Homo sapiens: one gene and its partner. The protein of the gene in region 1 interacts with the protein of each later gene in a pairwise test. Each region holds a gene or a part of one and is shown on either strand. Other genes may lie near its edges.

Region 1 (4,651 bases):
CTCCACCTGGCTCTCTGTTCTGACCTTGTAGCCATCAGTGGGCATAGTGAGGTGGGTGGGGCTCAGACACGCATGTGTGGGGAGCCCCTCCCCAGGATGGTCCTGGAGCCCTAGGATGAAGGCTCGGCCCCTGCCAGCTACCCGGAGAACCAGGGCAGGAAGAAAACATCTCTGCCCCTGGAGGCTCTCATTTGTCCCTTCATGGGGACGTGGCTTTGCTTCCAAGGAGGTGGACAAGGCTGTGTCAGTTTGGCCTCCGGCCCTGGGGACGGCTGCTGCTGGCTGTCCTGGGTCTGCCTGGAGGGGAGTGAGCGAGGCGGCTGTGCTGACCACAGGGAGCTCCATGGGGTGGGACTCCGGGAGGTCCTCCTGCTGGTGCTGGTCGCCTCTGGCGTTGACATGCAAGGGTCATTTGCTGGGGCAGGAGGCAGACCTGGGCTCTCAAATGCACACAGCGACCTGGCAGAAAGAGTGCAGCGGCTCGTACCACTCGCCCAACGCGGTATCGTGGACCACGTCTGAGTGCCAGAGCGGAGGGTGGCAGACAGAGCTGAGGGCTATTTGGAGAGACCTAGGAGGCTGGGGGTGTGGGGACAGGGTCCTCGGGGTCAGAGTCCAGGACCACAGGACCAGGAGGGAGCCAGGACCCTGAAAGTCTAGGCGAGGCCGCATGGGGCAGGGGGGCCCGCAGGCTTGGTTAGTGGGTGCCATGGTCCCTGCCCATCTGTGTTCTCGCCAGCGATGCCTGAGCAATGGGTATTCCAGAACCCCACGAATACTGGGCTGCTGGGCTCGAGTCCTGGGGGAGGGCGTGGTCCCCATGTCTTACTGTGGAGGAGATGAGGGCTGCAGGGATGGGCACTGTGGTCCATAGCTGGTCTCCCCAGGGGTAACAGGAGGGGTGAGGCTGCTGGCTGGAGCTAGGCCCCGGGTGGGCTACCCCAGTCCTGGGGGGCAGCCATGAGCTGGGGAGGGTGAATGTGGCTCAGGGGCCCAGAGTGCTGCCAGGGTCCACTTTGTCCCGAAACTCCTGGCCTTGGTTCCAGAGGCAGCTTTCCTAAGATGGGCCGGGGGGCCATGTGCTGGGGTTGGGGGCCCACGGGGCTAAGAGGGAGACTGGCCTTCAGGGTTCACAGAGGCCAGCACCAGAAGGCATTGCTTCCTGCCTCATCCCATGCCCCTCGGGGGTCCACAGACAGGATGAAAAGTCGACAGAGACAGAGGGGTGGAGCCAGGCCTGCTGGGGGTCAGGACTCTCCCTGCAGTCAGGGGTGGCATCACTTCCCACCTCACCCTGTGCCCCCCGGGGGTCCACAGACAGGACAGAGGTTGGTGTGAGACAGAGGCGGCTTTATTAGAACTAGAGGGGGTGCTGCCCAGGGTGGAACCAGGCCTGCTGGGGGTTAGTTCTGCAGAACTTGGGTCTGGGGGAGTAGCTGGGGTCTCTCATGCAGCCAGCATCTGGGAAGGACAGGGGGAGCATCCTGGTCCCTAAGACAAAGAGCCTGCCCCATCTTCTGAGGGTGTCAAAGCCAGAGAGGGCAGAGCTTGCTGGGGCAGCTGGGAGGTCAGCCCCTGGTGGGAAGGGACTCCGGATCACATCCAGGGCTGTCAGCAGCTGGACTTCTGGCCAGAGCAGAGGCTGTAGCAGGCAGGGCGGGAGCACATGGGGCGGCAGAGGAGGGAAACACAGGAGGCCGTGCGGCAGCAGCTGGGCTGGCAGGAGGAGGCAGAGGCACCACAGGAGGGGACGGGCACGCAGCAGGTGGACTTGCACACAGGGTGGCAGAGGAGGGACACGGAGGAGGAGGATCTGCAGCAGGAGGCGGTGCAGCAAGCCGGCTGGCAGCTAGACTGCTGGCAGCATGATGTGGAAGCCCCAGAGCAGACGGGCACACAGCAGGCGTGCTGGCAGGGGGAGGAGGTGCAGCAAGCTGGCTGGCAGCTAGACTGCTGGCAGCATGAAGAGGAATCCTCAGAGCAGGTGGGCACACAGCACACAGGCACGCAGCAGACGGGCACGCAGCAGGCCTGCTGGCAGGGGGAGGAGGTGCAGCAAGTTGGCTGGCAGCTAGACTGCTGGCAGCATGAGGGTGTGCAGGAGCTGGTGCAGCCTGATTGGCAGGGGCTGGGCTCACAGACCGCCTGGCAGCAGGGGCTGGACACACAGCTCACACAGCTAGACTGCTGGCAGCACGAAGAGGAAATCCCAGAGCAGACAGGCTTGCAGCAGACGGGCACACAGCAGGCCTGCTGGCAGGGGGAGGAGGTGCAGCAAGCTGACTGGCAGCTAGACTGCTGGCAGCATGAAGAATCCCCACAGCAGACGGACACACAGCACACAGGCTTGCAGCAGACAGTCTTGCAGCAGACGGGCACGCAGCAGGCCTGCTGGCAGGGGGAGGAGGCACAGCAAGCCAGCTGGCAGCTAGACTGCTGGCAGCACGAGGGCGTGCAGGAGCTGGTGCAGCCTGATTGGCAGGGGCTGGGCTCACAGGTCACTGGGCAGCAGGGGCTGGACACACGGCTCACTGGGGTGCAGACCAGGCTCAGGCAGGGGGCCGGGGCGCAGCAGGGGGGCTCACAGCAGCTCTCTGGGCAGTCGTCCACCTGCCAGGAGTCGGAGCAAGAGTCACAGGAACCAGGAAGGCAGACGCGGCTGCCGTAGCTCAGGTCGCTGGAGCAGACGGACATGGTGGACGCGGCCATGCTGGGGTTGAACTGGTGGAGGGTGAGGGAGTGAGCCTGTGAGGTGCTGAGGCTCTCGGGCTTTTATTCCACCTGGCCTTGTTGTCCCCGGGCCCACAGCTTCCCCTTCCGTGTTGCCGAGAGCTGGAGTCTGCCGGGATTAGGGGTGTTTGTTCGCCCGTGATGTGGGCCAGCTCATAAATCTCCCATCACATCTGGGCTGTGTCCCATCCCATGTGGATCCCTGGCGGCAGGAATTGGGCGGGGCCTGGTCCCAGCTGGGTTCGGGGAGCTGGGAGAGCCACAGGTCGCGGCATCGTCCACCCCTGGCCCCAGCAGCCCCGGGACACAGAGTCCCTCTGCAGGAAGCCGGCCTCAGGAAGTGTCCTTGTGGTGAAAACCCCTCATCCAGCGTGGTCCTTCCCCCATCACCGGACACAGGACTGTGGCCATCTTCTGAGGGACAACCTGGGGCCCATGAGCCTTCATTGACCTGCCCTGGGCCATGGCATGGTGGGGGTGGGGGGCAGCTGTAACTGTGCCCAGACCTCTTGGCTTTGAGCTCTGGACGACTTCTCATCCCCACAGCCTCTTCACCTCCGGCCCTGTTTCGTGTCCACCTCGTCTTTGTGTTTTGGAGGCAGCAGGACCTGTGTGTTCCAGGGCAAGGACGGTGGGCTTGGCCCCTCCCTGCTTGGACAGCATGACAGCCTTCTGGGCTGTGGTTTTGGGTTCTGAACCTGCAGAGTAACCGTGCTGAGCAGCGGGCGGTCAGCAGCCCTCGTCCCCGCCTGGGGTGGCTCCTCTGTGTGCTCTGCTTCTCCGAGGCTGCCCGTCAGCCCCCACCCAGCCTCCTGCTGGGCCCATTTCCCAGCCCTGTCTTCCAAGCCCTGTGCCAGGCCTCTTAGTGTCACCACCTTAAAATTAAGGGACATCTGTCCAAAGAACCCGCACAGAAGACACAAAATGGGTCCATGAGAAGTTGATCTCACTGCAAACCCATTGCCAGTGTAAACGAAACATAAAATCCTAAGCCCCTCAACTGACTAAATGGATCCCATCTTGCCCACGGGGACCCCCGAAAAACTGCGTTCCTGGCCATGACAGGAAGGGAGGTCAGACACGCCTCGTTACACCCCCTCCCTTTAGGGTTTCGACACAACCACTACCCAGCACTAAAGTTAAAATAGAGACCGTAAGACCCACAGAGCAGACTCTGGCAATAAGATATCAAATTACAAACAGGACCTCAGGCCGCGCCAGGCAAGGGACAAGCCGCGTGCCCTACACTGAGAGGACGGACTCTGCTCTCACGCCACAGCTGCTGTTTTTCTACAGTGGCTAAACACGCACTGGCCCCGCGATGAGGATGAGCAAGGTTCAAACGACTGCAGCTCATCCACCAGCAGATGCCAACTGACCACGTTCCACAGCCATGACCACAGCTCTGACTGGGCAGGAGACTGACTTCAGGAACCTCCTCCTGATAAGGGACCCCCAACCATGGACTGGCTCCAGCCGGTTTACAGAGGCTGTGCACTGGAGTGCCTTTGTGTCCTGAGAAGACTTCTGAGGTTTAGGGCCTCATTGCGACCCATTGACATGATAAGACTCCACCCTGTAAGAAGTACATTTCAAGTGGTCCGTATTCAGAAAACAGGCCCTGGCAAGTCCAGGCAGCTCCCTTGCAGATGTGACAAGCCACACAGTACAGACATCTGGGAAGAGTGATAAGACTCACAGAAGTCAGAGGGGAGGAAGAAAAAGTGACGGATGGCTAACACATAAAAGGAAAGAAACTTTTGCCATTGAGAAATCAAATGTAAAGTGGGGAAGGGGACAAGATGTAACCTTATAAGGGGATAATGAAACTTAGGTGACGTCCAGGAAGCCTGTGACCCCATAGTACTCAGGCTGCGAGGAACTGGGCGAGGGACCTGCACACTAGGGGATAAATTGCTTG
Region 2 (2,853 bases), on another chromosome or scaffold:
TGCCCAAGCTGGTCTTGAACTTCTGACCTCATGTGATTGGCCTGCCTCGGCCTCCTAAAGTGCTAGGATTACAGGCATGAGCCACCGCGTCCGGCCCTGAGGTCTAAACAAACATACAAATATTTTTTCTACTCAGCAATTTGGGATCCTTCCTCGCCATACTGATAGATGTCCAGGGAAAATGTAAATCCCCTGATGTTTTTCCAAAATGCTAGCGCCCCATTAACCTAACAGGTGGTTGAAAATAAGCAATTTCATGGAAAGCATTGTGGTGGCTGTAAATCCGATGGTAACCTTTTTGACCTCATCCATGCCAACTCTGCCCCAGGAATGCTATTAAAATTCTCCTTCGGTGATTCGTGTCTGGGTGAGTTGATAAGACAGAGTAAAGATTCCTAAATGTAGAACTATGACGACATCTAGATTGTTCTGCTTTTAAGAATAGGAGTGTTATCGATAAGACCAGCTTGCACTTTAATACCAAAAGAGAACTCATTCAATTTTTTTAAGTTGACTTTTAATGAGTAAAAATAAAAACCCCTCACAAGTCAAGTTTACTCAGTAGCCAATAGCCTAAAATGAAATTTTAATTTTGCTTGTTCACATAATTTTGGGTTTTTTTTCCCCTTCTCTGTTCTGACTTCTCTCAGTCGAGCCTTGGCGACAGGAAAAGAAAAAAAAAAAAGGCGTATTTCTCTTCATGCCCCTCTCACCCCAGTAAAAAGTAGGAGAAAAAGAATACACAGATTAAAACAGAATTGTATTATACATTCACTTTTGAGTTATCAGGTGAACTTAATTCACTCCAGAACAATCACAGAGACAAAGACAGGCAAGCTGGGTTTTAGGCTCTCACCCTTGACACTCCAAATTGTGCTGGGAGTGGCCAAGGCTTTGTTAGAAATGGCCCTAAGGGTATATACACTGCCTCAGCTGCCTTGGGCTTCATGCCCTGGGCTCCTCCACCAGGGCCAGCCCCAATAGGTCTTTAGTTCGAGGTAGAGGTTCTGCTGTTATTTCCCAGGTGAGCTAGAAGCAGGTGAGTAGCAAGCACTCTCTAAGACTGCTTTTTATTGTGTGGTGACAAGTTTCACAATTGTGCTGATGATCCGGGATCCTCGAGGACACGTACACAGATCAATGCTTGGGTTTTTAATTTTATCCTGGAGAAGCTGATCAAGTTCGCAACGAAGCTCCTTTACCAGTTCAGCCACCTAAAATGAAAGCTACAATATAAGCAGTGCTTGGAGGAACAGGCAGGATAGGTTATTGGAGGGAAATACCCAAGTTATGATTACCATTATTTAGATTTCTGGTACTAATTTTAACTCCATTAGGAGCAAAAACCCTAAATACATTTTCATTTTGTAATAGACTAAATGAGGTCCATTGTAAAAAAGTGCCTCTATCACATCTCATCTAAAGAAAAGATTCGGGCCAGGCGCAGTGGCTCACGCCTGTAATCCCAGCACTTTGGGAGGCCAAGGCGGGCGGATCATGAGATCAGGAGTTCAAGACCAGGCTGGCCAACATGGTGAAATCCTGTCTCTACTAGAAATACAAAAATTAGCGAGTTGTGGTGGCATGCGCCTGTAATCCCAGCTACTCAGAGGCTGAGGCAGGAGAATGGCTTGAACCCAGGAGGTGGAGGTTGCAGTGAGCTGAGATCGCGCCATTGCACTCCAGCCTGGGTGACATAGCGAGACTCTGTCCCCCCTGCTCCCCAAAAAAGAAAAGATTCAGTCTGGAAGTATGGCTTTTATATAGTGTTCTCCATATTAAAGTTTGGTCAATTTTTATGATTTATTCCACGAGGAGAAGCAGGAAAATGGGGAATTAAAAGTGGTAGAGAGGGCCGGGCCCGGTGGCTCACGCCTGTAATCCCAGCACTTTGGGAGGCCGAGATGGGCAGATCACCTGAGGTCAGGGGTTCGAGACCAGCCTGACCAATGTGGAGAAACCCCGTCTCTTAGTACTAAAAGTACAAAATTAGCTGGGATGGTGGTGCATGCCTATAATTCCAGCTACTTGGGAGGCTAAGGCAGGAGAATCGCTTGAACCTGGGAGGTGGAGGTTGCGGTGAGCCAAGATTGCGCCATTGCACTCTAGCCTGGGCAACAAGAGCGAAACTCCGTTTCAAAAAAAAGAAAAAAAAAGGAAAAGAAAATTTACTGATCACCGATCACTCCACTGCAGACCTTGTTGTCTCAAAAAAAAAAAAAAAAAAAAGGGTGGTAGATAGGCTGGGCCGGGTGGCTCACGCTTGTAATTCCAGCACTTTGGGAGACTGAGGTGGGCGGATCACCTGAGGTGGAAGTTCGAGACCAGCTTGACCAACATGGAGAAACCCCATCTCTACTAAAAATACAAAATTAGCCAGGCATGGTGGCACATGCCTGTAATCCCAGCTACTCGGGAGGCTGAGGCAGGAGAATTGCTTGAACCCAGGAGGCAGAGGTTGTGGTGAGCCGAGATCGCGCCATTGCACTCCAGCCTGGGCAACAAGAGCAAAACTCCATCTCAAAAAAAAAAAAAAAAAAAAGTGGGCCAGGCTCAGTGGCTCACGCCTGTAATCCCAGCACTTTGGGAGGCCGAGGTGGGCGGATCACAAGGTCAGGAGTTTGAGATCAGCCTGTCCAAATGGTGAAACTCCGTCTCTAATAAAAATACAAAAATTAGCCTGGCGCGGTGGCTCATGCCTGTAATCCCAGCACTTTGGGAGGCCAAGGCGGGCAGATCACCTGAGGTCGGGAGTTCAAGACCAGGCTGACCAACATGGAGAAACCCCGTCTCTACTAAAAATACAAAATTAGCCGGGTGGTGGCGTATGCCTGTAATCCCAGCTACTTGGGA

The links. The genes of interacting proteins can lie anywhere in the genome.
Region 2: the proteins of KRTAP10-6 (region 1) and DHX57 interact in binary tests that used the Homo sapiens proteins (3 or more experiments, as listed by UniProt).

The regions. Positions count from the first base shown.
Region 1 is NC_000021.9:44,589,776-44,594,426, forward strand, and holds KRTAP10-6 (keratin-associated protein 10-6), read right to left. Parts: upstream 2,731-4,651; 5' UTR 2,710-2,730; coding exon 1,612-2,709; 3' UTR 1,493-1,611; downstream 1-1,492. UniProt on the Homo sapiens protein: In the hair cortex, hair keratin intermediate filaments are embedded in an interfilamentous matrix, consisting of hair keratin-associated proteins (KRTAP), which are essential for the formation of a rigid and resistant hair shaft through their extensive disulfide bond cross-linking with abundant cysteine residues of hair keratins.
Region 2 is NC_000002.12:38,797,229-38,800,081, forward strand, and holds the end of DHX57 (putative ATP-dependent RNA helicase DHX57), read right to left. Parts: intron 1,227-2,853; coding exon of another isoform or gene 1,215-1,226; coding exon 1,071-1,214; 3' UTR 501-1,070; downstream 1-500. UniProt on the Homo sapiens protein: Probable ATP-binding RNA helicase.